Linked DNA regions of Homo sapiens: region 1 is linked to region 2. Evidence: fine-mapped expression QTL. A gene starts in region 2. The other region holds a variant in brackets. All regions are shown on one strand. Distances are from middle to middle. Region 1 holds the start of KLHL33 (kelch like family member 33). Region 2 holds the start of RNASE4 (ribonuclease A family member 4).

Region 1 (16,988 bases), 260 kb after region 2:
CTGGGCTCCAGTGACTCACCCACCTTGGCCTCCCAAAGTGCTAGGATTACAGGCAAGAACCACCATGCCCGGCGGGGTCCCAGCTTTATCATGCACAGAAAAGTCAACAGCCAAAGCCTGGTCCAGACTCTTTGCCTGATCCTTCCAGCCCACTCTAGTGGCCCAGCCCTTCTGGCCTTGGGCTCATTCCACCAGATCCCCTCATTCTCCTTGGTTTCCTAATTTGCCTAGCTCAGCACACTCCTGTATGACCTACAGGTGGAAGGGTGGGGATGTCAGTCTGGGAGGGAGCCCAGGGGATTGGGTGTCAGAGTTAGGACACCAGGTGCCAAGTGCCTAGCCAGCCAGGACTGGCTATAATTAGCCCCATGGGGCCACTGGCTGACTGGGATGCCATGTGGGCAAGTTCCCTCTGCCACGCAGCCCCAAGCACAGCGGGCGCTTAAGTGAGAGGGCAAGCGGAACGCTGGTGTCTCCTGAGGGTGACTAAAAGGATGGGGGCAATAGGGGAGGGGTGTGGTCCCGGTTACCGGATCTTTACAGGGCTTCTTGCATGTTTCACTGCACCGCGTGCACCCTATAGCTGTCCTGTATATCCCAGATACTCCAGTGCTGGGATGTGGCTGAGGGTAGGAGGAGGGTGTTGGAGCAGGGGAGAGACTGACATTTCAACTGGCTGGAGACATGGTTGCTCTGGCCTCTTTGGGCCCAGCTCTGACGCCAGGCTGTCTTGCCTCTGCTCACCTGCAGCTATCCAGCAAACCTCGGCATGAGCGTCTCGGACACCCCACATTATCCCCCTGAGCTGGAGAGTGTCTCTCATCCCGTCCAGAGGGACTGCCTTGGACTCCTTGTGCACGCCCAGAGAACCCCTTCCTGGCCTCCCTCCCCCGACGAGGATCCCAGATTGCCTTCCTTTCCTCTGGAGGAGCCTGGTTCCAGGCCCCTGGTCCCAAGGAACCTTCCCTTTCCAGCCTTGTCCCTAGAGGAAGAAGAGGAAGAGGAAGAAGATGAAGATGCGGCAGAGCCCGAGTGGCTGCGCAGCGAGGAGCATCCGAGCCAGTTTTTCGCCGAGGCCCAGCGGCTGCGGGAGCAGAGACTGTTGCTGGACGAAGAGGTGTCAGTCGCGGGGCGGGTATACGGGGTGCATCGGGTGATCCTGGCCGCAATCAGCAGCCTCTTCCGAGACAGGCTGCTGGGCGGCGGAGGTCCGCGGCCCCCCTTCAGCCTCGAGGTGTCCCCAGGGGGCTGGGAGGCCGTGCTGACCTTTGCCTATGAGGGGGTGCTGGGCCCCGCCTCGCAGGGGGATGTGCTGGCCGCAGCAGAGGCGCTGGGAGCGCCCCGGGTGAAGGCTGCTGCCCAGCAGACATGCGAGAGGGCTGGAAATGCCAGGGAAGATGTAAAGAAGCCCAGCCAGGCAGAGGAGCTGAGGGAGAACCTGCGCGGAATCGAGCTCCTCTACCGAGAGGGCGTCGGGTGTGACTTGAAGCTGGAGGCAGGCGGCTGCCAGCTGTCGGGTGAGGGCCTGTGGGGCATTAAATTACTGCAGGTGCATATGCTAACGGAATGGTGTGTGCAAGCAGCAGGTGGTTTTATCCCCACCATGATGGTTTTGATCCCTGCTGCTGTCAGAATTTCCCTGGGGTGGCCTTTGGTGCCTCTCCTGCCCCACGGAGAGCCGGGCATGCGCAGTCGAGTTGTTTTCTAGGCGCTCTGACAGATTTAAACTGACCCTCTGTCTGGCTTTTCCTGTGTCCAGTAACAAGGAATCTCCAGCCAGCTGGCTAGAGCTAAGGGTACAATCCATGGCAGTAGAACAAGCAGAAAGTGGATTGACTCAAGCAGAAATTAACAAAAGGCCCTTCTTGGCATCCTCCATTCAGGACACAGGAAAGCCAGGGGAACATGGTGGAAAACTCAATGTGTGCTTTCACCTTGGTGTGCTTGACGCCATGGCTGACTTATGGGCCCTGCAGCTAATGAGCAAGGTCTGGTACTGTTTAAGGTTACCAGGCCGTGGCACTTTTTTTTTTTTTTTCTGAGACAGCATCTCACTCTGTTGCCCAGGCTGGAGTGCAGTGGCACAATCTTGGCTCACTGCAACCTGCACCTCCTGGGTTCAAGTGATTGTCCTGCCTCAGCCTCCCGAGTAGCTGGGATTACAGGCACCTGCCACCATGCCTGGCTAATTTTTTTGGTATTTTTTTAGTAGAGATGGGGTTTCACCAGGTTGGCCAGGCTTGTCTTGAACTCTTAACCTCAGGTGATCCACCTGTCTCATGCTGGGATTACAGGCATGAGTCACTGCACCCGGCCTGGCCATGGCACTTTGAAGTTAACTCTGCTCATCACCAGGAAAGCTAAGTAGGGTTGCATAAGTTGAGTATTATTCGGAGTCTACTAACATTTAGTGAGGCACTGGGTACCTGAAATTTTTACACATGACATCTCTTTTTAAATTTTACTGAAAGCTGGTGAGGTCAATATCATTATCTACAGGTGCACATAAGGAACATTAAATTTGGAGATGTTGACTTGGGACAACCCCAGGATACAAGCCTACATCACTAGTCCAGTCTCCTTCCACTAGGCCATGTGGACACATTGAAAGTTTAAAATTACAAGGGATTAGTTTAGAGATTATCTAGTTGGGCTGTTACACTTTGATGATGACGAAATCAGAATCCAAGACTTGTCCAAAGTCACATAGCTACTGCCCATTAGAGGAGTGACTGGGAACTGAAGTGCTTCTGGGACTCCTAGAAGGAAAACCACTCCAAAAGTCTATTTTCATTTATGATAGCACTAGATGGAGAGGGGATTTAAATTTTTCATAATCATAAAATTCTCACTAGGCTTTTGAATTTAAGCATACTCATATCACTGCTTTTATTTCCCTAGGAAATATTCCTACTTAATGGTTGCGAATCTGTCACTTAAAATCCTAGGGTATAGTAATGAGTAAGAGGTGAATACAAGTGGCTGTGAGCCCTTTCAGGGTTGGCTCTGAACTATAGGTTGATTGATGATATGGGAGCTGAGATGGCTTAGCTTGTTTTGAGGAATGCAGATTTTCTCAGACAATATATATTTGAAATCTGTCATTGATGTTTACTACTTGGGAAGCACCAGGCCACTACCTACTGCTTAAAAGACAGTGGAAAGTCATATGAACAACACCTGCCCTTTGGGAAAGGCACGCATGCCTCAGTTGGTCAAAGCAGCATGGAGTTCTTAAACAGCTTGGCCCTCTGTGACCTGCCTAAAAGGACTTCTAGGAGCATTACCCCCCACCTTTTTATTATGAAGCATTTTACAAAACCAAGAATATTAAGATGAACATTCAAACAACACCCATCACCCAGATTTAACAACTAATATTTTACTATATTTATTTCATCTGTTCATTTTATTTTTTACTGAAGTTTAAAGGAAATTCATGACATTTTACTCATAAGTATTTGGGTATGTATCTTTTTAAAAGAAGACAATTCTGTGGGACTAGGTGTGAAAGGAAAAAATAAAACAAAGAGGACATTTTCTCATAACCATAATACCTTTATCATGCACGACAAAATTAATAGTAATTTCTCTCTTTCTTTCTTTCTTTCTTTCTTTCTTTCTTTCTTTCTTTCTTTCTTTCTTTCTTTCTTTTTTTTGAGATGGAATCTTGTTCTGTCACCCAGGCTGGAGTACAATGGCACGATCTCGGCTCACTGCAGCCTTCACCTCCCAGGTTCAAGTGATTCTCCTGCCTCAGCCTCCCGAGTAACTGGGATTACAGGCGTGCACCACCACACCCAGCTAATTTTTGTATTTTTTGTAGAGATGGGGTTTCACCATGTTGGCTGGTCTGGTCTTGAACTCCTGACCTCAGGTGATCCACCTGCCTTAGCCTCCCAAAATGCTGGGTTTACAGGCATGAGCCACCGCGCCTGGCCAGTAATTTTTTAATATCACCTAGTCCACATTTATATTTTCCCAGTTGTCCAAAAAACATTTTTTAAAGTGAGTTTGTTCAACCCAGGAATTAATCAAGGACTATGCTATTCTCAGTTGCATGTCTCTTAAGCTTCCTTTAATCTAGTACAGTCCTTCCTCCTTTTTTTTTTTTATTACTTTATATATTGATTGGTAAAGACAATAACATGTAAGATTGGTTACCCTGGGCCAGGCATAGTGGCTCACGCCTGTAATCCCAACACTTTGGGAGGCCGAGGCAGGCAGATCACTTGAGGCCAGGAGTTCAAGGTTAGCCTGTCCAACATGGCGAAACCGTCTCTACTAAAAATACAAAAATTAGCCAGGCATGGTAGCGTGCACCTGTAGTCCCAGCTAATCTGGAAGCTGAGGCACGAGAATCACATGAAGCTGGAGGGTGGAGGTTGCAGTGAGCCGAGATTGTACCACTGCACTCCAGGCAGGGTGACAGAGTAAGACCCTATCTCAAAAAAAAAAAAATTGGTTATCCTATAAAATGCTCCATTTTCTTGATTTGTGTGGTTTTTCCCCTCTAAATTGTTCCTTTAGCCTTTCAACTTCCTATAAACTTGACTTTAGATCTAAAGAGTTGAACAGATTCAAGTTAAATATTTTGGCCAGAATAATCCATAAGTGATGCTGAGTATGAGGTCTAATTGTTTAACAGCGTAGGTTAATAGGACAGTTTCATTGTCATGAGGACCATGCAGATAACCAAGGTATTGGTACACAAGCATGCTTATTGCAGCCTGACATCAGTGGCAGTGGATGGAGATGATCTGCCCACACAGCCACTGCATGGAAATGAAAAATAAATCACATGCTTTCTTTGGGACCCAACTCAGTTTCCACATTTTATTTATTTATTTATTTTGAGATGGAGTCTCGCTCTGTCACCCAGGCTGGGTGCAGCGGCGCAGTCTCAGCTCATTGCAACCCTCGCCTCCCAGGTTCAAGCTATTCTCCTGCCTCAGTCTCCAAGTAGCTGGGATTACAGGCGCCTGCCACCATGCCCGGCTAATGTTTGTATTTTTGGTAGAGATGGAGTTTCACCATGTTGGCCAGGCTGGCCTTGAACTCCTGACCTCAAGTGATCCTACCCACCTCAGCCTCCCAAAGTGCTGGGATTACAGGTGTGTGCCACGACACCCAACCAGTTTCCTTATTTTAAAGGGAATAATTGAATTAGATTATTTTGAAGTTCTCAAGTTTCAGATCTCATGATTCTACAAATTACACCAAGAACAGGAGAGGGTTATGCAGAGAAAAGCTGGGACGCACGGAAAACATTAAACACTAAATCTTAGGCAAGAGGAGACAGCAATCCGATGAGGTTGGATTACAGCCATTCCCGAGTGGTGCCACTTTCCCAGCAAAATCTAACAGAATGGCTGACAGTCTTGGCTCTTGATTGTAAAGAATTTTATTTTGTCACGATATAGACAGACCTATATAAGTTGCTTGTTGGTCATTTCCCATTTATTTTGTGCTCCTCTTAGCAAATGCTTTCCTCTCAACCTGATCCATGAAGACTCTTTTTCTGACTCATCTGACCAAAAAGACTAAAGCAATGTTTATCTAAGTGTCTTCAGGCCACTAACATGAGAATCACATAGGGTTACTTGAAGTGTTACAATACAAATTTCTAGGGTCTCCGTCCAGAACTGCTGAATCAGAATCTCTGGGAGTGGACTGCTGAAACCTGCATTTTAACAACTACCCCATGGTATTCTGATGCACACCACAGTTTGGTCTGTAGCAGTGGGTGGCTTGGAGGGCCAAACTTAGAGTTTGGCCAAACTTAGAGTACCAAGTTGGGGTAATGCCTATCGGTCTTGCAATACTTTGAGTCCTCCTCTATTCCTTCTCCCCTCCTGCAGTGCACCGAGCCGCCCTGGCCTGTGGCAGTGAGTTCTTTGGGGCCATGCTCCTGAGCGGGATGAGGGAATCCCAGGGCACAGAGGTATCTCTGCGGACGATCTCCACCCAGGACCTGCGACTCCTCGTCTCTTTTGCTTACTCCGGAGTTGTGCGGGCAAGGTGGCCAGGGCTACTGAGAGCTGCCCAGGCTGCTCTGCAGTACCAGAGCTCTTCCTGCTTGGATTTGTGTCAGAAAGGCTTGGCACGGGGCCTCAGCCCTGCCCGTTGCCTGGCCCTGTTCCCCATGGCGGAAGCCCCTGGGTTGGAGAGGCTCTGGAGCAAAGCCCGTCACTACCTCCTCACCCACCTGCCTGCTGTAGCCTTGTGTCCTGCTTTCCCTTCTTTACCAGCTGCCTGCTTGGCTGAGCTCCTGGATAGTGATGAGCTCCATGTGCAGGAGGAGTTTGAGGCCTTTGTGGCTGCACGGTGTTGGCTGGCTGCCAACCCCGAGACCCAGGAGTCAGAGGCCAAGGCCCTGCTGCGATGTGTCCGCTTTGGCCGCATGTCCACCAGGGAGTTGCGGAGGGTGCGGGCAGCCGGGCTACTTCCACCCCTGACCCCAGATCTGTTGCACCAGCTGATGGTAGAGGCTGATGTTCCAGGCCAAGAGAGACGGAGGGAGCCTGACCGGGCACTGGTAGTGATTGGCGGGGATGGGCTCAGACCAGACATGGCCCTAAGACAACCATCCCGAGCAGTGTGGTGGGCCCGGGCCTTCCGCTGTGGCGTGGGACTGGTACGAACTGTTGAGTGGGGGCAGCTGCCTGCCCTGCCTGCCCCCGGACGCTTCCGGCATGGGGCTGCAAGCCTGGCAGGAAGTGAACTCTATGTGTGTGGGGGACAAGATTTCTACAGTCACTCCAACACCCTGGCTTCAACTCTCAGGTATAAGCTTCTAGGAGTGGGCAGGGTGTGGCAGGCCCTAAGGTGGGCAGGGAGAGAAATTGCTGGCCTAGCCAACCACGGATGCCCAGAGTCCCTCTTCCAATCTCTTGTCCTACTGTGTCCAGGTGGGAGCCCAGTCAAGAGGACTGGGAGGAGATGGCTCCTTTGTCCCAGGCTCGAAGCCTTTTCTCCTTGGTGGCACTGGATGGAAAACTTTATGCCCTGGGTGGAAGACACAATGATGTTGCCCTGGACTCTGTGGAGACCTACAACCCTGAGCTCAATGTCTGGAGGTAAGCAGGCAAGGGGGCATCTGGGAGAGATTAGGAGACTTGGAATAGAAGGAGAGTTGAAGATGCTAGTTGCCTTATCTTGTGTCCTGTTCTCCCTTAGGCCAGCACCTGCACTTCCAGCACCATGTTTTGCCCACGCAGCTGCGATTTTGGAGGGCCAGTTGTACGTGAGCGGTGGCTGTGGTGGGACTGGCCAATACCTGGCCTCACTGATGCACTATGACCCCAAACTTGAGAAGCCAGGGACGTTTCTGAGCCCTATGGGGGTACCTCGGGCTGGCCATGTCATGGCTGCATTGGGTGGGAGGTTGTATGTGGCAGGTGGGCTGGGTGAGACTGAGGACCTGCTAAGCTTTGAGGCCTATGAACTAAGGACTGATAGCTGGACTCACCTGGCACCCCTACCCTCCCCCCATGTGGGGGCTGCAAGTGCTGTGCTGCAGGGGGAGCTACTGGTGCTCGGGGGCTACAGTCACCGTACTTATGCCCTCTCTCACCTTATCCATGCCTACTGTCCTGGCCTGGGCCGATGGCTCTGCCTGGGAACTCTGCCAAGGCCTCGGGCTGAGATGCCTGCCTGCATCCTGACACTGCCCGCTGTGCAGCACATAGCTTTGGTTCCCACCCCACACCAAACCAAACCTGCTGGGTGAAGAGGGAGCAACAGTGTATGGGGAGAGGAGGGCATAAGAAATAGCCTGAGAGAAGGACAGAGATTGTGGGGAGTGAAAAGAGGCTTTATTCTTGGTAGTATTTTATTCTCACACTGTGCATTGTAAACTGCTTTTGTACGTATGATCTCCGTTGAGGAAATGGTGGTTCCAGAACTCCTAGGGAAAACATATAGGGAAAGGGGAGGCAGCTGAATACCCAGGTGAGGAAAGGAGACTCGGGAGCAACTCCACAAGGCTTAGGGATTCTTAGGGAAAGGGCATCTAGTTTGAAAGAGAGTTAAGAAGCTTCAGTAGCCAAAGTGTAGAGACCATGGGAGGACAGTTGGAAAAATGGTTCTGACCCATGGATCATGGGA[A/C]AAATGTGGAATGGCCATCCATGAAAGAGTTTGAGGAGTGTAGGAGTAAGGACTGTAAATCGTTCAGCCCTTTTTTTCCTGGAACTTGCTCCTTTCTCCTCTCCCACCCCTGGGATGCCTAAACCTTCTTAACAATATTCTCTCCCGGGTAACTTTGTAGGCCTGGTCTAGCGTTTCCCAGCGAGACACCACAGGCTGCCCCTGAGAACCTCTTGGTTTCCTTCTGAGGCAGAAGCTCCCACATGGACATGCACGGCACAGGGGCCTGAGAGGCCTGACGGGCCCCCCAGGGCCATGTGGCAGGAGTGTTGTGTGGGAAAGATGATGGGGGCAGAGGCCAAGGAGGGAGAGGCCCACAGTGGAAAAACAGATGATCTGAGGTTTAAGGAGATGGGGTGGAAGAAGTCAGAAGCCTGTGTGCCTTCTTTCTTTTGGGCAAACTGAGGAATCAGGAGTGAAAATGAGACCGTTGTTGCCTGAGGTCTCAAGTGGTGAGAGGATGTGGGGGGAGAGAAGAGTGAGAAGCAGACAAGACTCAGAAAAGTCATTTCCCCCTTTCAGTTCCTTTCCCCCAGAGTTATTTTTAAATCCATTTCCCTTTATCTTGGCCAGGGAAGGTAGTCAGGTGCTTCCTCTTTCTCTCTTCCCCCATCCTGCTCTCCCCACTGCCTCTCTTTTTTCTTTCTCTTCTTTCTCCCTCACACAGTTATTAATTACCTACTGTGTGGCAGGCACTGTAGGAGGCACCAAGATACAGAGGTCAGAGAGCTCCTGACCAGCAGATAGACATAAACAAATACAAATTTTGAGTGGACTTACATGTATGGACGAGTCTTGCGAGAGCCCAGAGGATAGAGCAGTGAACTCTGCTCAGGAAGGCTTCTGTTAGGAAAGGTGTCATCCGATGGGTGTATTTTGAACTGGATCTTAAAGGCTGCCTAGAGTCTCACCCATTAGAGAAGGGGGAATGCATTTGAAACAGAAAGAAGTGGGGCATGCCATGCCCTGTTTCTCCATAGCAAAGAGGAAGTGGGTATTCCAGAGGCTTTTCAGATAATTCTGCTGCTCTTGCCACCTACTCTCTTCTCTGGAGCCTTCCTGAGGATAATGGCTTTCACTTAATGATTGTGTATTCCCGCCCTCTATGACTCACCTCTATCCTTCCTGTCTGCTCTTTCCATTTCTGCCTACTGGACAGCTGAGAGCAAAAAAGGGTCAGTTTTTTTGTGTGTGTTTAGGTCAATTTTCTTTTTCTTTTTTTTTTTTTAATTTATTTTATTTTATTATTATTATACTTTAAGTTTTAGGGTACATGTGCCCAATGTGCAGGTTAGTTACATATGTATACATGTGCCATGCTGGTGTGCTGCACCCATTAACTCGTCATTTAGCATTAGGTATATCTCCTAATGCTATCCTTCCCCCCTCCCCCCACCCCACAACATTCTCCAGAGTGTGATGTTCCCCTTCCTGTGTCCACGTGTTCTCATTGTTCAATTCCCACCTATGAGTGAGAACATGCGGTGTTTGGTTTTTTTGTCCTTGCGATAGTTTACTGAGAATGATGATTTCCAATCTCATCCATGTCCCTACAAAGGACATGAACTCATCATTTTTTATGGCTGCATAGTATTCCATGGTGTATATGTGCCACATTTTCTTAATCCGGTCTATCATTGTTGGACATTTGGGTTGGTTCCAAGTCTTTGCTATTGTGAATAGTGATGCAATAAACATATGTGTGCATGTGTCTTTATAGCGGCATGATTTATATTCCTTTGGGCATATACCCAGTAATGGGATGGCTGGGTCAAATGGTATTTCTAGTTCTAGGTCCCTGAGGAATCGCCACACTGACTTCCACAATGGTTGAACTAGTTTACAGTCCCACCAACAGTGTAAAAGTGTTCCTATTTCTCCACATCCTCTCCAGCACCTGTTGTCAATTTTCTTTTTCTTTTTTTTTTTTTTTTTTTTGAGACAGAGTTTTACTCTGTTGCCCAGGCTGGAGTGCAATGGCGTGATCTCAGCTCACCGCAAACTCTTCCTCCTGAGTTCAAGTGATTCTCCTGCCTCAGCCTCCCTGAGTTGCTGGGATTACAGCTATTACATCTGGCTAATTTTGTATTTTTAGTAGAGACGGGGTTTCTCCATGTTGGTCAGGCTGGTCTTGAACTCCCGACCTCAGGTGATCCACCCACCTCGACCTCCGAAAGTGCTGGGATTACAGGCGTGAGCCACAATGCCCGGCCTGTGTAGGTCAGTTTTCTATTACCATTGTTTATTAAGATTTTCATGTTTCTAAGGGTGATGATGGAGTCTCCCTTGCACCCTTCTTCATTCTGGCCCCAGAAGTACTTGGCATGTATTTTATTTATTTATTTTTAGATTTCGTTATTTTAGTAAGATCTTTTTCTGTATCTCTATTTAAGATAGACTAGGAATGTAATTGAAAATGAGAAGGGGTAAGTAGGATGTATAAGAGAAAAGAGAAGGAAGAATAAAGAACGGGAAGAAGGAAATTGAAGGAGATGACAAGCTCTCTGGATGAACTTCTATGAACATTTTTTGTGATTTGTACCTAAAGGCAGACTTAAATAAAGGTTTCATAGTGACTGAATCTTTCTTATCTGAGTTTCTCTACTATAAAAAGCATTCAAAATAAAATTCCCTGTATTCTGCCTTCTAGGTCTACCACATGATTGAAATCATCTCCCTCCACTGTTACTGTGACCTGCTTCTTACCAAATCTAACAATCTGTGGCCATCTTCATTCTCTTTCATCTTTCTACAGGAACTGATTGGCGTGAAAACTGGCTCTTACCCTAAAAATTTCTCTTCTTCTGGCTTTAGAGATAGCACACTCTCCTGGATGGACCTTCTCTTATTTCTCCAATCCAAAATCCAGTAAGCCAGATCAAAGTGTCCAGGGGGGTGTGGCTTCATCCTTGGAGCTGATAGCCAAGGATCCACAGGTATGTGGATGAGGGTGGTTCATTGCAGAAAGTTCTGACTTTCATTATTTGTCTTTAAAACTGAGGGAAGAGTGAGGAGAGAGGAGACCTCTGACTTGAAGGAGGACCCTAGTCAATAGTCCATTCATCAGTGAGAAGGGACTGAATATAGGCAAGGTAACAGTCTGGGTCTTCAGCCAGGCAGACTAAGAATAGGGTAATATCAGGGTAACATTTCAACCCCAGAAGGGAAGTGGAGTGAGAAGTAGGAATTGGGATAGAAACTATGCATACAGATTGGGCAGCCGTGGTGGTGACCTGGCAAGACTAGTTTGATGACTGTAGAGGCCTGGGATTCTTACCTTTGGTGAATCAGATGATAAGCCAAGGTGTTCTAGATGCTCTCTAATAGCTCCCCCAACAGTCTTCCCTCCACCCCCTTTGCTGGTGAGGGTGAAATTTCTGATATCTCTCTTATCTTTCCAAGGTTGACTCAGGTACTGGGTAGGACTGGACATGCAGGTTAATGTTTAGTACAAGTAAGTGTGTGGGACTCTAGGTATCACTTGTCTCCTGTGCCTAGTCCTGGCTGGGTTGCTCACGTTCTTCCTTTCCTTTGTTTTATGCTCCCTGTCAGGAAGCTCACCTCTCCTCTGTCTCCAACCTTGATGGTTCGCCTGGGTTCTAGTCTGATTTTTTTCAGTGATTCTCACCTCCATTTAGATGTGCCAGCATCATTAGTTCAGATTCCTCATGCTTTATTGGCACTATCATTTCTCCTATTTCCTGGGCCTGAAGCTTTGGAATCCTCTTGAGCTTATTTTCCTTTATCTTTTCTTCTTTACTTGACTCATCATGTAATACTGGACTACCCAAAGAAAAACTGACTTAGTGTCTTCTCCCAATCTTTTCTGTGTTAAATATAATATATACGGAAAATTTTTAGCCAGGTGTGGTGACACATACCTGTAATCCCAGCTACATGGGAGGCTGAGGCACGAGAATTGTTTGAACCCGGGAGACGGAGGTTGCAGTGAGCTGAGATTGCACCACTGCACTCCAGCCTGGGTGACAGAGTGAGACTCTGTCTCAAATTAATAATAATAATATATGGAAAATTGATAGCAAGGAAGGTTTAAAAAAATAGAAGAGCAAATTTATATGAAAATTTCACTAGCTGTGAAACCAAGAATTATTACTTACCCAGACAGACACTCTGGGTTGTAGAAGCAACAATGTTCAATCAAAAGAATGAAAAAGTGCCAGGCACCGTGCTACATGCCCATAGTTCCAGCTCCTCAGAAGGCTGAGGTGGGAGGATTGCTTTAGCTCAGGAGTTCGAGTCCAGCCTGGATAACATAGTGAGACCCCATCTTGAAAAAAAAAGGAATAAAAGAAAAATTGCATAGAAAGATTATTTAATAGAATTATAGAATGGAGAGGTTTCAGAGATCATGTAATTCAAACCTTTTGTTACACAGCTTAGGAAATAAAGTTATGTGGTACACAGTCTGGATAATGAAGAGGAAGGCTTTTCATGAAACTAGTCTCTCACATACATTAGGACCAACAGGCAGGCTAAGACAAACATCACAGACGAGGTCTATAGACAGGACAGTCATAATTACTCTTTCAGGATCATAGACTATATCCTAAATCCTGTCTAGCCCTTGAGATCAAGGAGCCCTAAGTGAAAACGTGTGAATTCATCACAGCTCCTGGTAAAACACCTACCAAAAAAATTATAGATAGATAGATATTTATGTGTATATACATACATACATATATATCATTAGTGGTGAGATTATAGTCTGTTTTCTCTGAGAGAGAAATGATCATGGTATTATTACTGTAGCTGATTCAGAATTTAATAATCTATATTTCGTGTTTGATATGTTTTGGATCTGTGTCCCTGTGCATATCTCATGTCAAATTGTAATCCCCAGTGTCAGAGGTGGGGCCTGGTGGGAGGTGATGGGTCATGGGAGTGGTTTCCATGGTGGGTTTAGCCCCATTCCCTTGGTGGTGTTCTTCTGGTAGTGAGTTTTCGTGAGAACTTGTTGTTTACAAGTGTGTAGCACCTTCTGCCTCACTCTCTTTCTTGCTCCTGCTCCTGCCATGTAAGACGTTTCACGCCTCCTTTGCCTTCTTCCATAATTGAAAACTTCCTGAGGCCTCCCCAGAAGCAGATGCTGCCATGCTTCCTGTATAGCCTGCAGAACCATGAGACAATTAAACCTCTTTTCTTTATAAATTACCCAGTCTAGGGTATTTCTTTATAGTAATGTGAGAACAGACAAATACAGTATTAGAAGAATGACAAAAAAAACGTATAGCCTTGAAAGTGTACTGAGCTAGATTCAGTAACTTGGCTTCAAGTTTCAATTCAATTGTTGCTTTGGTAATTATGAGTAAGTCCTTTAACCAGTTTGAATTCCAAGTTCGTACCCCATAAAATAAGCACCATAATGGTATTGTAAACACCACAGTGTTATTATAGCTCATGAACCCCAGAGCTTGGGACAGTCCTAAGGACCTCTAGGCACATTTGGAAAAGTGTGCCTTGGTAATCTATAAATCAAGTTCCTAGGACATATCCTTTTAGATCAGAGAGCTAAATGATGCCAAACAAGGAGGCCAGTATACCGTAGTGACAGGCTCCTGAGACCACGAGTACCGTACAGAAGGTTATAAGCTACTCCAGCCTGATGTACTCCTGAGACAGGGAAGCAGATTCATCTGGATTCCAAATGAGGCCAAGGCATATAGTTAGAGAGCTATGTATCAGTTAGTTGGTGTTTTGTTTTGTTTTGTTTGAGACAGAGTCTTGCTCTGTCTCCCAGGCTGGAGAGCAGTGGCGCAGTCTCCGCTCACTGCAAACTCCACTTTCTGGGTTCAAGTGATTCTCCTACCTCAGCCTCCCGAGTAGCTGGGATTATAGGCACATGCCCGGCTAATTTTTGTATTTTTAGTAGAGACAGGGTTTCACCATGTTGGCCAGGCTGGTCTTGAACTCCTGACCTCAAGTGATCTGCCCGCCTCAGCCTCCCAAAGTGCTGGGATTACAAGAGTGAGCCACCGCGCCCGGCCTATATATCAGTTTGACTAATTGCCAGGTAGGCAATCTGAGCCCCAATACACACTTTTCAAGCAAGCTGTCACTGATGAAAGCCAACTCTTTCATTGCAGAGTAAGAACTGCTTGTTTTATTTTTTATTTTTTTGAGACAGAGTCTCACTCTGTCGCCCAGGCTGGAGTGCAGTGGTGCGATCTTGGGTCACTGCAACCTCCGCCTCCCAGATTCAAGTGATTCTCCTGCCTCAGCCTCCAGAGTAGCTGGGATTACAGCAGTCTGCCACTATGCCTGGCTAATTTTTGTATTTTTAGTAGAGATGGGATTTTACCATCTTGTCCAAGCTAGTCTTGAACTCCCGACCTCAGGTGATCCACCTGCCTCAGCCTCCCAAAGTGCTGGGATTACAGGTGTGAGCCACTGTGCCCAGCCTAGAACTGCTTGTTTTAGATTATAGTTATCATTGTTTGTGCTAGCTATATGCCAGGTGGTATGCTAAGTGCTTTATGTATATTATCTAATTTGAATGACAATACAGTCCATAAAAAGCGGGTGCTATTATTATTCCCACTTTATAGATGAGAAAACTGGAAGATTAGAGGAGTTTGTAAATGTTGAGCATGTATTTAAACTGGTAGAAGGACTTTATTATGCCCCCTCTCTAATGTAGCTCCATCTCCACTTGAGTGGCAAGCTTTATCCATGAAACTCATACATGGGCTCTACAAGTGGGAGCAATGAGCGAGTATAAGTGCCACTGGAGGTTTGGAGACATGGTCTTGAAAAATTAACATCCAATTGCTGTAATGCAAATAGCTGTGAATTTAAAAGACGCTCAGCCAGAGAAAGGGGCAGTGGGTTCTTCCTTCCAGCAGTTTTTTTCACTTATTAGGATGTATTGAGCTGGGGATTGTTATGAAAATGAGACAGGAGGTGAGACTTTTCAAACGGAGAACCTAGCCTGACCCCTTTGCCAAATCAGCATCATGTGATCTTACTGCAGACTCAAGGACCACTCTCTGGCCCCTTTGAGGGTTGAGATTATTAACCTTATTTTCTTCTACAGCTTAGGTCACACTGCTAGTCAGTAGCAGAGGAGGATTTAAACACAGATCCATTGGACCAGGTGTGGTGGCACATGTTTCAAGACCTTTGTCTCAAAAAATAAAAATAAAAAAATAAAAAATAAACCCAGATCTGTTGGACTCCAGAGTTCATGTTTAAACAACCATATTTAATATATAATATATTATCTGGCTGGGTGTGGTGGCTCACTCCTGTAATCCCAGCACTTTGGGAGGCAGAGGTAGGCGGATCACCTGAGGTCAGGAGTTCAAGGCCAGCCAGGACAACATGGTGAAACCTTGTCTCTACTAAAAAGACAAAAAATTAGCCAGCGGTGGTGGCAGGTGCCTGTAATCCCAGCTACTTGGGAGGCTGAGGCAGGAGAATTGCTTGAAACCAGGAGGCAGAGGTTGCAGTGAGCCGAGATTATGCCACTGCACTCCAGCCTGGGCAACAAAAGCAAAATTCCATCTCAAAAAAAAAAAAAAAAAAAAAAAAAAAAAAATATATATATATATATATATATATATATATATATATGTAATATACTATCTTCACCCATATCTTGGATTGCAGCCAAGTACTCCAGTTCTTCCCTGATTATCTGAATTCCCCTATTTTTTAAATTCTTCCTACAAGTCATTAAAATGTTCCAAGTTCACTATTTTTTTTTTTTTTTGGGACGGAATCTCTCTCTGTCACCAGGCTGGAGTGCAGTGGCACAATCTCAGCTCACTGCAACCTCCGCGTTCCCAGGTTCAAGCAATTCTCCTGTCTCAGCCTCTCGAGTAGCTGGGACTACAGGCGCATGCCACCATGCCCAGCTAGTTTTTGTATTTTTAGTAGAGATGGTGTTTCACCATGTTGGCCAGGATGGTCTTGATCTCTTGACCTTGGGATCCGCCCACCTCGGCCTCCCAAAGTGTTGGGATTACAGGCATGAGCCACCATGCCCGGCCTTTTTTTTCTTTTTCATTTTTTTTTTGACACGGAGTTTCACTCTTGTTGCCTAGGCTGGAGTGCAGTGGCGTGATCTTGGCTCACTGCAACCTCCACCTCCCAGGTTCAAGCAATTCTCCAGTCTCAGCCTCCCAAGTAGCTGGGATTACAGGTGCACGCCCCCACACCCGGCTAATTTTGTATTTTTAGTACAGACGAGGTTTTACCATGTTGGCCAGGCTGGTCTTGAACTCCTGACCTCAGGTGATCTGCCTGCCTCTGCCTTCCAAAGTGCTGGCATTACAGGTGTGAGCCACTGTGCCCGGCACCAAGTTCACTATTTTGAGATCCAAAGTTTACTTCCAATTACCTCTGCCTCATCCCATCCAAAAGCAGGACTCAAATCCTTTTCGGGATCAGGTGTACTGTTTTTGTCTCAAAAAAAAAAAAAAAAAAAAAGTAGGATGATTACAGAGTACCCTGATGTAAACTGTCTTATGTTTTGCAGGCCTAGTGTACCAGTTATCATTTGCTGCCCAAAACTTTGTGACTTAAAACAACAACCATTTAATCATATCTCACAATTTTATGTGTAACTGACTTCACTAAATTTAGGCAGGCTTCCACTAGATGATTCTTCTGTTTCATGTGTCATTAGTGGAAGTTACTTGATAATAGACAATTGGTAGATGAACTGGTCTGAGGGACTTAAGACTGCTTCTTTCTCCACTAGGGCACCAGACAGGGCACATGTCTGGTGCCCTGGTGGAGATGGCTAGAAGGCTGAGCTCAGTTGAGTGTGTTAATTGAAACACCTACATGTGGCCTCTTTAGAGTGGCAGTCTTAC
Region 2 (10,229 bases):
ATTGGGAGAAAACCAGTAAGAGACAGATCGTTTGTGGTGTAAAAGTGAATCTGCCTAAGCCAAGGGTGCAAAGCCTCACATCTGGTGGCAAAAGTCCTATAGATATATCCTTCTGTACCCAAACACGTAACTGTCTGTCAGCTTTTTGTCAGTGGAATTAGTCCCAGCTGTTCTCTGTCCTTTTTTTCTTTTCTTTTCTTTTTTTTTTTTTTTTTTTTTTTTTTTGAGACGGAGTCTCGCTCTGTCGCCCAGGCCGGACTGCGGACTGCAGTGGCGCAATCTCGGCTCACTGCAAGCTCCGCCTCCCGGGTTCACGCCATTCTCCTGCCTCAGCCTCCCGAGTAGCTGGGACTACAGGCGCCCGCCACCGCGCCCGGCTAATTTTTTGTATTTTTAGTAGAGACGGGGTTTCACCTTGTTAGCCAGGATGGTCTCGATCTCCTGACCTCATGATCCACCCGCCTCGGCCTCCCAAAGTGCTGGGATTACAGGCGTGAGCCACCGCGCCCGGCCTGTTTTTTTTTTTTTTTTGAGACAGAGTCTTGTTCTATCGCCCAGGCTAGATCGCAGTGGTGCTATCTTGGCTCACTGCAACCTCCACCTCCCAGGTTCAGGCAATTCTCCTGCCTCAGCCTCCCAAGTAGCTGGGATTACAGGCGGCCACCACCACGCTTGGCTAATTTTGTGTATTTGGTAGAGACGGGGTTTCGCCATGTCGGCCAGGCTGGTCTCGAACTCCTGACCTCAGTTGATCCGGCTACCTCGGCTTCCCAAAGTGCGGGGATTACAGGTGTGAGCCACCACACCTGGCCCCAACTGTTCTTTAGAGTAACTTTATCTTCTGTATCAAATGAATCTGTTAGTATTCACAAGAATTATTCTCTCCCTCTCCCCACAGGCAATGTTCAGTATTCAAAAGATTCATCAAATTTTACACACCAGGGAGTTAACTTGACAGTTTATGATGAGTAACTATAGTTATCATTTTCATCAATGTGGCTTCACACTTTTATACATCCTAGGGCAAAATCCCCCAAAGTAAGAGCCTAACACCCAAGGCATATTCATCCCTTTATTGCTTTTCCTTCCTTCTTCCCTTCAACCTGCCAGTGAGCCTTCTTTTGATCTTGGGATGTGTTCCACTTTGTTTGAAAGAGCATCCAAAACTTTTCTAAGAAGAGAAATTAGCAGGGAAGGTTAGAAGGAAACAATGCTAAAAACATACTGTTTCTTTCCTTGTTAAGCCACGTGTAATGCCTGTAACAGGGGTGGACGACGGGGGAGGACTCCCGATGGCCTTCAGCAAATGGCTCCCCCAGGCCTTTGGGGATTTTATCACAATTTAGAAATCCCTCCTAAACTTCCACTTCCTCCCAGTCTCACTAATTTCTCTTTATCCACACATAGGCCATCCCAAAAGAAACCTGTTTTCATTTTAAACTTTAGAATCTGATCCATTTTCTTTTTAATTCATGAGCTTGAGCCTGGAGGCTTTAAAGGGAGGAAAATGGTTTCATTAAAATGGATGGATGGCTAGAAATAATATATAAAACAAATTGAACAATAGTTTACCCAGGAGGAAGAATCTTACAAAAATCTGGCAGTTTCCCTTCAACGGGAGATGGGTTCCAGCTGTTTGTTCCTGGAGATGGGTTCCAGTTGTGTGAACCTGGAGGCCTCTCCAGGTTCTGATTATATAGTGTTCCTAATATATAGTGTCCCAGTCCTGGCAGGGACATGAAAACCAAGGACACTGCTCTTGAACAAACGAGGAGGGTCATTCACCTTTTCGCTGGGCATGATTGGGTTAGATATTAACCCACCTGAATGGATTAGAGATTTGTTCTGGAAGACAAAGTTTGAGAAACATGGCCTTCTGTCCAAAAGTTGCCCTTTTCTGCTGTCTGTGGTGCTTACTCTTGTTCATGGCAGGACTGAGGTTTCCCTATTCACACATAATAGTCTGGATCCATAAGATAGCATCTCTGATCTCCCTGGGCCAACTCCAAGAACTGCCTTGGAAGATGTCACAGAGTAAGATATGGTCTTCCAGTAGGATGCTTTTCCACTGTACTATTTATCATTTATCATATCACATCCTATTTATCGTATCACATCATTTGGTTTCATGAACGGATGCTAAGCACGTTATTCCATCGATTTCATACAGCCAGGAAAGCACTTCCAGAGAAGGTTGTGTGACAGCTATTAGTACACTGCCCCTCCCCCTACACTCAACTTCTCAGCTTCTAACCCCCAGAAGCAGGCTTGCCATGTTTCCTGGGTTTCTCCTTCTTCCATCTTTACCTGTCCACAAGAGACTAACCCTGAACATTCAATCTTCTGATCCTTGTAATGTAGTTGCAAAATTGCTTATCTCCATCATCAAAGCAGGGCTGTAGATCCATTGCTTGCGTAAAAACAGTGGGCCAAAGGTCACCAGGATCACCTTATAGATCTCATAGTTTCCAATATCAGACAGCAGCAGGGTACCAACTGTTTCACAGACCCCCAGCATTTGCCCACAGTGGTGTTGGATCTAGGACAGTGTTATCTTTTTAAAAATCCTCAATCCTCTGTTGTCACCCACCTAGCTGCCAAGTATTCAGTCTGGCTGCACTTGAGAAGGTGTCAAGAAAAGACAGGCTGCCTGCTAGTAAAACAAATGCACTTGAAATCACAATAATTATAATATTCAGTGCAATCTTTCATTTTGTGAAGCTCTCACATACATGACTACATTCAACCAACACCAGGACTGTGTGAGGTAGGCATTATGTAAATATGCTCTGCTCATGAGGAAACTCCAAGAACAAACAGCAGATGAATGGTGGAGTCAGACTTTGAACCCTTCATAAGCAAGGAGAAAACTGACCTGTCTTTCCAGGCTTAGCTCAAGCAACACCACCTCTGAGTCCCGAAAAGCGGTACCCTGCCACAGCATACAACCCATATGCGCCTGCACACACACAGCCCCATGGCCTGAAGCACCAATTCAAGCACCGACTCACACAAACAGAGCAGCCTCTGATTTTAGAGTTCTGCAGTAGTGCTGAGGTGGGGCAACCAGCAGCCTCTGAATATAGTTAGGTCCCTTCTCTGCCTCTGGGCCTTCACTGGACAACCTTTGGAGGATACACAATCTGCCCACAATGCAAAAAGACAGTTTTATGTTTTTCTTTTAAACTTGGCACAAGGAAGTTTTGTTGAAATGAAAAGTAGGGTTTGGGGGAAAAATTACTATTTCATTAGAATGCATCTAAGCACTTAGTCATTTGTGTTTAAAATACAACAAGGAATTATATTCTATGATTAAGGAACATCACATCTTTGTCAGTAATTTTAATACAAATGAAGGAATCGCCAATTGCAAAAAACCTCATATATTTTTTAAATGTTCAGACAGCTTTAACTTGAAAGTCATTCCCCTTTCCTGGAGATTTTTTTCTCTCTCTCCCTCAAGCCAATAATGTCCCTGCACACAGACACGGGATGCACGGGTCCTGTTTCCAAGGACCCTAGTGTTAGAGCACTTTCCTCCTTCATACAGAGTATATATGTATCATTCTGTCTTAGGACTAATTATAAAATTAGATGATGGGAAGAATGGACTAAATAATTTCTATATTTCTTTATTATTCTAACACTTTAGGTCTATAAGCATGAACTTATTCAATAACGGAAGTAACAGGTAAAGAAGGAAAAGCACACGTGGCAAGAAGAACCACGTCTCCAGGAAGAGGCAACACTACTGATTGAAGGACAGTGGGGACAAAGTCCTGCTGACATGCCTGTATTTCCAAACAAAGACAAAAATTAAACATTTGCTTTTCAACCAACTCTGGGCTTTGTGCCCACTCACTCTTTGTTCCCATTCCCTCTTTCCCAAGTATTTCATGGCATTCTTCCGGGAATAACTGTTTACAGAGAATTACAGAGAATCTGCTTAAATACAGATTCAATAAAAACTCCTAAAGAAAGGTTTCACTGACCTTCATTGGTCCACTTTTTTATCCAGCTACTTTAATTTGAGTCACAGTGACCAATGCTTCCAACAATAACTTGACAAACCTCTTACTCTTGCCTGCTTATAACCTGATTATCTGTTTTCAACAATAGCTAAAGCCATTCCTCTTTTCCTGGAATGATTTTTTCCATCCTCTCTGCCAAACGATAGTTCATCTCCACATTACTAGAGTGCCTCATGTCCTGTTACTAACATCGTACCACTCCATGGAGTCATAGAACAAGAGTGGGAGGGGCCTCTGAGACTCTGTCCACCCCTCATATTAAAGAAGAGCCAACTGAGGAACAGAGAAAGAGACATGTATTGCCCAAGGAACTCATTGCATTCGCCGGCCTGGAAGCTTTCCAATGCACCACACAATTTTTTTTTTTTTTTTTTTTAAGACGGAGTCTTGCTCTGTCACCCAGGCTAGAGTGCAGTGACGCAATCTCTGTTCACTGTAACCTCCGCCTCCCAGGTTCAAGAGAGTCTCCTGTCTCAGCCTCCCGAGTAGCTGGGGTTACAGGTGCTCACCACCGTGCCCGGCTAATTTTTGTATTTTTAGTAGAGACGAGGTTTCACCATCTTGGCCAGGCTGGTCTCGAACTCCTGATCTTGTGATGCACCCACCTCGGCCTCCCAAAGTGCTGGGATTACAGGCATGAGCCACCGTGCCGGGCCCACACAACTTTTATATTCCATACTAGTACTTTCTAGACAATCAGAGCTAACTTTAAAGGGGCCACTGAAAGTTGCTGTTCGAAGGAAACCTACATTGACTATTACCATAAATTCAAAAATTATTTTACTCTGCTTGTCATCAGTAAAAGAATTGCTTGAATTGAAGCGTATGTAATAAACCTATCCTCTTGCAAAACTTGTTAGTGGCTCTGTGGTTAAGTAAGTCTTGAATACCTGAGGCTGCTTCTGGGAAGGTGGTCCTGTGCCACAGATAATGATGTCCCTTGGGTTTCTACTGATTACATTATGACTTGATTATAAGATTTTTACTGTCACGAGGGAGGGTCTTGGCTCATCTGAGATTTCCCTAGCCCCCTGAGTGGTGCTGAAATTGTTTTAATAAAGATGTTGCGCTTTACTCATGTGCTGCTATTAGCATTTGACGTGCTGTCTCAGAGCGAGAAAACGGAGGATCCCAACCTTCCAGTAGGAAGGCTTAGAGAAGAGGCTGTTGGCAAGTGTCTCTAAGAATTGCACAACACTGGCTGAGGGTGGGTTAAGGGTGAGGAGGCAGAGGAGAGTAAACAGAAAACACCGATCCCCAAATGTTAGTTACGCTTGCAAAAAACTAAGGCCTGCTTCAAAAAGCTGGTGATTAGCCTGAATAACTAGCAAAGCTTTCTTAGTTGTGGGCAAGTGCAGGCCTCCTAGGGCTTCCCTTAGGTTCGGCGATTCTGTGGTCCCCCTCCAAGCCTACTAATCAATAGAAGCTGGCATCTGTGCCCAGCTGCGCAAAGTAAACCTGAGTGGGAATGTAAAGTCGTTAACTCATACAAATACGGGACTTTCACGTCCCTCCCCATTCCTCCCTCTCCAGCCCCGTCCCGCAAACTCCTCCCCAAGGAGTCCCAAGCTGCCTCTACTAGGAAAGGACTCCCCGGCCTAAACGCCCCTTATGAAGCTACCAGAGAGGAGGAGGAGGAGCAGGAGTGTGAACCTACCTCGGCCTCAGAACAAGTCCGCAGAAACGGGCAGGACAATGGAAAGAAGTTTTGTTTCTCACCCGCTTCTTCCTCCCTAGTACGATGATGGGGAGCCGGTAGAAAACGCAAAGATGTTCTTTTGAATCCTGCTTTGCATCTAGGTGGGGTTGGCGTCCTTGTGTGAGTGTGTGTACACGGACGGAGATGGGGGCGTGGTGAGGTGTGGAGGGTCGGCGTGCCAGCCTCTGCGTAGTTGGGACCGCGCCCCGCTTCTCCGAGGAGGCCCCTCCCGCCTGGATCCGCCCTTGGAGCTGGCGCCGCAGCAGCACCCGCCCCAGGGGCCGCAGGGGCAGCCCAGGCAAAGAACGAGCCTGGGATCCGCGCTCCTTCCTCAGCTGGACCCCAACGGGCAGCAGCCGCGAGAGCACTGCCTCCACGGAGAGCAGATGGCGGGAAACTGGCTTCTGCTCCCAATTGCCAGGCGGCCCTTCAGAGACTACCCCTGGCTGAGCGTCCAGGAACCCATGAAACTTGGTCTTGACACTGGTCGACAGCACCATCTGCCACGTACTTATTCGCTGCTGCTTTCTTTGGCAGGACAGCCCATCGCGAGACAGTTTGTGTTTCAAATTTAACGGAGACTTTTTTTCAGTAGTTGACAAAAGGGGGTGGAAAAACAGTAGCCACGAGGGCTCGTCCGGGATTTGAACCCGGGACCTCTCGCACCCAAAGCGAGAATCATACCCCTAGACCAACGAGCCACTGTAGCTGAGTGGTGCTTCCTATCACTCTGAATTTCTCTTTTCCGCCTGCTGTTCTGAAGGTTTTTTGTTTTGTTTCTTTTCCTCTGTTGTGACATTTCCCTTAGGCCTTATTTAGTTATTCCTTCCATCTTCACCAAGTTTCAAGTGTGGCTTATTCTCTGGCTTATTCTCCTCGATCCAGATGCAGGATGGGGTGAAGGAAGGCAGCTTTTTAGACTTTAGGTCACATGCTTGTGTCTCACTGAGCCCGGGGAGCGATTTAAGCCCGCTAGGGCCTGGAGGGAACCTGGAGGGGGCTGAAATAGAGATCGAGGGCCAGAGCTGAGCTCGGTTGCAAGGCTGTAGGGTACTGAGCCCCAGGACAGACGCGCGATACGTATATATCTGCCGGCCTTTGGACTTAACGTAGAAGCCAAAATATAACACACTTCGGTAAGACAACAGTGCCTTCCCCCAACGGTGGGACGATTCGGGTCTACTATCTTTCAGAAAGGTAACCAACTTTTCAAGACGCGATTAACGCAGCCCACCTCGCGGCTAAGCTGTTTCCTTCGGACAAGGGTGAGAGACAGAAACAGATTTGATCACGTCAAGATACAGAGATTTTTTGCACAAACGAAGAGCAACCGTAAACCCCAAAACAGCAGCGTCTCCTTCGAGCCGGAATCGAACCAGCGACCTAAGGATGACCACACATTAAGTACTACAGTCCTCCGCTCTACCAGCTGAGCTATCGAAGGAAGCACGGAAACAACTCTCCTAAAAATCCCTACTCGAGACATCCTTAACCAGAGACGGGAAAGAAAGAAATCTCTTTATACCCGGAAAGTAATTACTGCAGAGTCACAAAGCCAGCTTGTAAGACAGTCCTGCGTCCGAGGTTCTGAGGACAACCTTTCTAAATCTGGATTCCCCTGCCTCACTGAGGGGCTCCCAAGCAGAGCAGGCGCCCCTGAAACTCGGGCATACCGAGGCTGCTCATCCTCTGGGCGCCCGAGGGCTGTTGGCCTCACTGGGCGCGGACCCAGGGGCCTCGCGAGCGTGGATGCGTGTGTTTGTGTGTAGGGTGGGGACCGGCACCTGGGCGTCGGAGAACTGGGGGCTGAGGCGGTGGGACGCACACAATTCTGACTGCGCAACTGTGAACGCCGGAGAGGGCGGGCCTCCAGGCTTAGGCCCGGGCTCCCTGATGTCCTCACTTCCTGCGCTTCCCTCCCAATCTCGGCTCTTCCGCTTACACGTCCACAGACACGGGAGGGAGAGGGTGTGGAATGGAGCAGTGGTCCCCAACATTTTTGGCACTAGGGACCGGTTTCGTGGAAGACAGTTTTTCCACGGACCGCGGGGGCGGGGGGAAGAGTTGGGGGATGGTTTCGGGATGAAACTGTTCCACCTCAGATCATCAGGCATCACTTAGATTCTCATAAGGAGTGCAGTTTAGATCCCTGGCATGCGCAGTTCCCAATAGGGTTCGCGCTCCTGTGAGATTCTAATGCCACCACTGATCTCACAGGAGGCGGAGCTCAGGCGGTACTGGTAGCTAGCCCGGAGTTCACCTCCTGCTGTACAGCCGGGTCCCTAACAGGCCATGGACAGGTGCGCGGCCCAAGGGTTGGGAACCCCTGAAATAGAGGACATCTGGGCAAACCCAATGTTTCTGTGTGAATTCGCTTTTGGAGATAATATTTGCAGCTCATTCAAAAGGAAGGCCACATTTCTCTGCGTTAAAATCAAATTTAGTGACCCAAGTCTCGCCCCTAAAGTCGGGCCCTTAATTTCCCAAAACCCCACTGGCACATGAAACCTTGCCTCACAACGTGCATCTCTCTTCTGGACGCCTGGCCGGAGCGGCCATTGCTGGCTCTTCCCGTTTCAGAAGTGGAACCTTGATCTCTACTCCAAATATGCCCAGACCCGGGGCTTGAGAATAGCTTAAAGGGCTATTGTCTCGCCTAGCTGTCCCCATTTCCCGCCCGGCAGTCAGCAGGGCTCTCGCCGCCAGTCCGCAAGCCAGGGCGTGGGCAGAGGCTGACGGTGATTTCCACCGCCTGTGTAATGGATTCCGCCGCATTCCAGGAGCTAAAGCAGCATTACTACTGGAACCTAAAGGAAACGTTCTGCTGAGCTAGTGTTTGGAAGCTCTGAACAGAGGAAAGAAGCTCTAATTTGCCACATTTTCTGTGACTTAGTTCAGAAAGACTAGAAGGGGAGTTTTTCAAAAAACACCTGAATCAAGAAAGTAGTTTCGCAAGGCCCCAGCGAGATTTGAACTCGCGACCCCTGGTTTACAAGACCAGTGCTCTAACCCCTGAGCTATAGGGCCTCACGCAGAAACCGCCTCTTCCTTTCACAGAAAAGGAAAAGATTTGCAGGGCTTCTGCCAGCATCTGAGCATAGAAACTAAGTAAAACCTGGATGTCCTTTCAATCCATTTCCCGACTACTAGAATTCGGTTCACAGACTCAGTGTTCTTGCTGGGGATGGTACAAAGTGAAGGCCAGTGAGAGGGACCACTACTATCCTAAGATTGGAGAAATCTGCCCAACGCGACACAGTCTAACACAGAAAGATTCTCCACTCCCTCACTTCAGACTGAAAATTAAGAAGGGAAAACCGGCAGAGGAAGGAGCTCACCACAGGTCTCACTTGAAACTGCTGACATCCGCATTTTGTTTCCTGCTTGACTCAGGACTTCGTACCAGCAACTGTCTGCCTCCAGAGACCTTTCTCACAGCTGCGAGTCTCAGTGCCAGAGCAGGCATTCGTTAATTTGCAGTTTAATTCATTCCTTCATTCAACAAACACTGCATTCCAGTTCTGTACTAGGCTCTGCACTAAGAATTAGGGATCCAGATATGATCTTTATCCTGAAGTCACTGTCACAGTTTTGTGGAACAAAAGAACTTTAGTTTTCATGAAGGAAAACAATGAAAAGTAGCTGTGCCAGGTGTGAAGGGGCGTTGGCCATGCCAAGGTCCACACATTTACAAAGTGAACCATCCGGGGGTGTCTTCAAGAGGGCATTGGCCTGAGCTGCACTATGAAGGGAGGTTAAGACTTAGACAAAAATGGGAGCAGGGTGGTCCCTGGTAGAATAAAATTACGAGCAAAGTCCGAGAGAAAGACTGAGACATTCAAGGGAACACTGGCTGGGGCAGCAGGTGAGAAGATTAGTAGAAGAAAATAGAAATTCACCAAACATTGATGAGTTTGCGGAATTAATTGAAGGGACGAGCAACCAGAGTCAGAAACACCAGTGACTGGCCATGGTGAAGATGCTCAAACATAAAGCTGCAAAAAGGTAATCGTTATGGGACTGGAAAGGAAGGGATGAGTGAGAGCGTTACAGGGCAGGGCGATTCTGCTGAACCTAGGTATGAAGTGAAATCAAGAGGAAAGAGAGGGGACTCTCAAAGGTGTCTTGAAGAGGCAAGATAACACCTGCAGAAAAAAGGAAGCCTACTTCTTCAGCGTATCTGGAGAGGGCGGAGGGGTGACGCTAGGATTTAGGTAAGCTGAATATGAAGTGAAGGTGGAGCAGTTCATGGGAATTGCATGATAGCCAGAATAGTCTCGTGTCTAGAGTTTCATGAATTGATAAATGAATTAATCAAATTACATAAGTCATCCATTGAGTTAGAGACTCTACGAGTTATGCACTCTTGAAGGAAAAGAATACAGAGAAAACAGCTGAGACTAGAACATAAGTTTTGAATAGCCCTGTTATAGGCATATGTTATGTTAGTGTGTGTCCAACATCTTTTAAAAATTCTCCTTACATGTGGATATTTCACA

The links.
Region 1: its variant is fine-mapped to the expression of RNASE4 in uterus (GTEx, PIP 0.94).

What each region holds. Positions count from the first base shown.
Region 1 is chr14:20,419,593-20,436,580 of GRCh38, reverse strand. KLHL33 (kelch like family member 33) reads left to right here and starts at 415. Exons shown (of 5, transcript NM_001365790.2): 1 at 415-482; 2 at 751-1,517; 3 at 5,862-6,786; 4 at 6,912-7,079; 5 at 7,180-10,729. The coding sequence starts at 770. The coding sequence ends at 7,732. RefSeq lists enhancers at 1-868, 6,955-7,587. The variant A/C (reference allele first, on the strand shown) is at 8,110.
Region 2 is chr14:20,680,218-20,690,446 of GRCh38, reverse strand. It overlaps RNASE4 (ribonuclease A family member 4), which reads right to left and starts at 5,887. Exons shown (of 2, transcript NM_002937.5): 1 at 5,689-5,887. It overlaps ANG (angiogenin), which reads right to left and starts at 1,683. Exons shown (of 2, transcript NM_001097577.3): 1 at 1,573-1,683. It overlaps TRT-TGT5-1 (tRNA-Thr (anticodon TGT) 5-1), which reads right to left and starts at 8,757; the gene lies at 8,685-8,757. TRY-GTA5-5 (tRNA-Tyr (anticodon GTA) 5-5) reads right to left here and starts at 7,174; the gene lies at 7,086-7,174. It also overlaps TRP-TGG3-2. RefSeq lists enhancers at 5,596-5,735, 6,536-6,665, 6,806-6,995, 7,196-7,505, 8,226-8,275 and 1 more and silencers at 5,966-6,085, 6,356-6,405.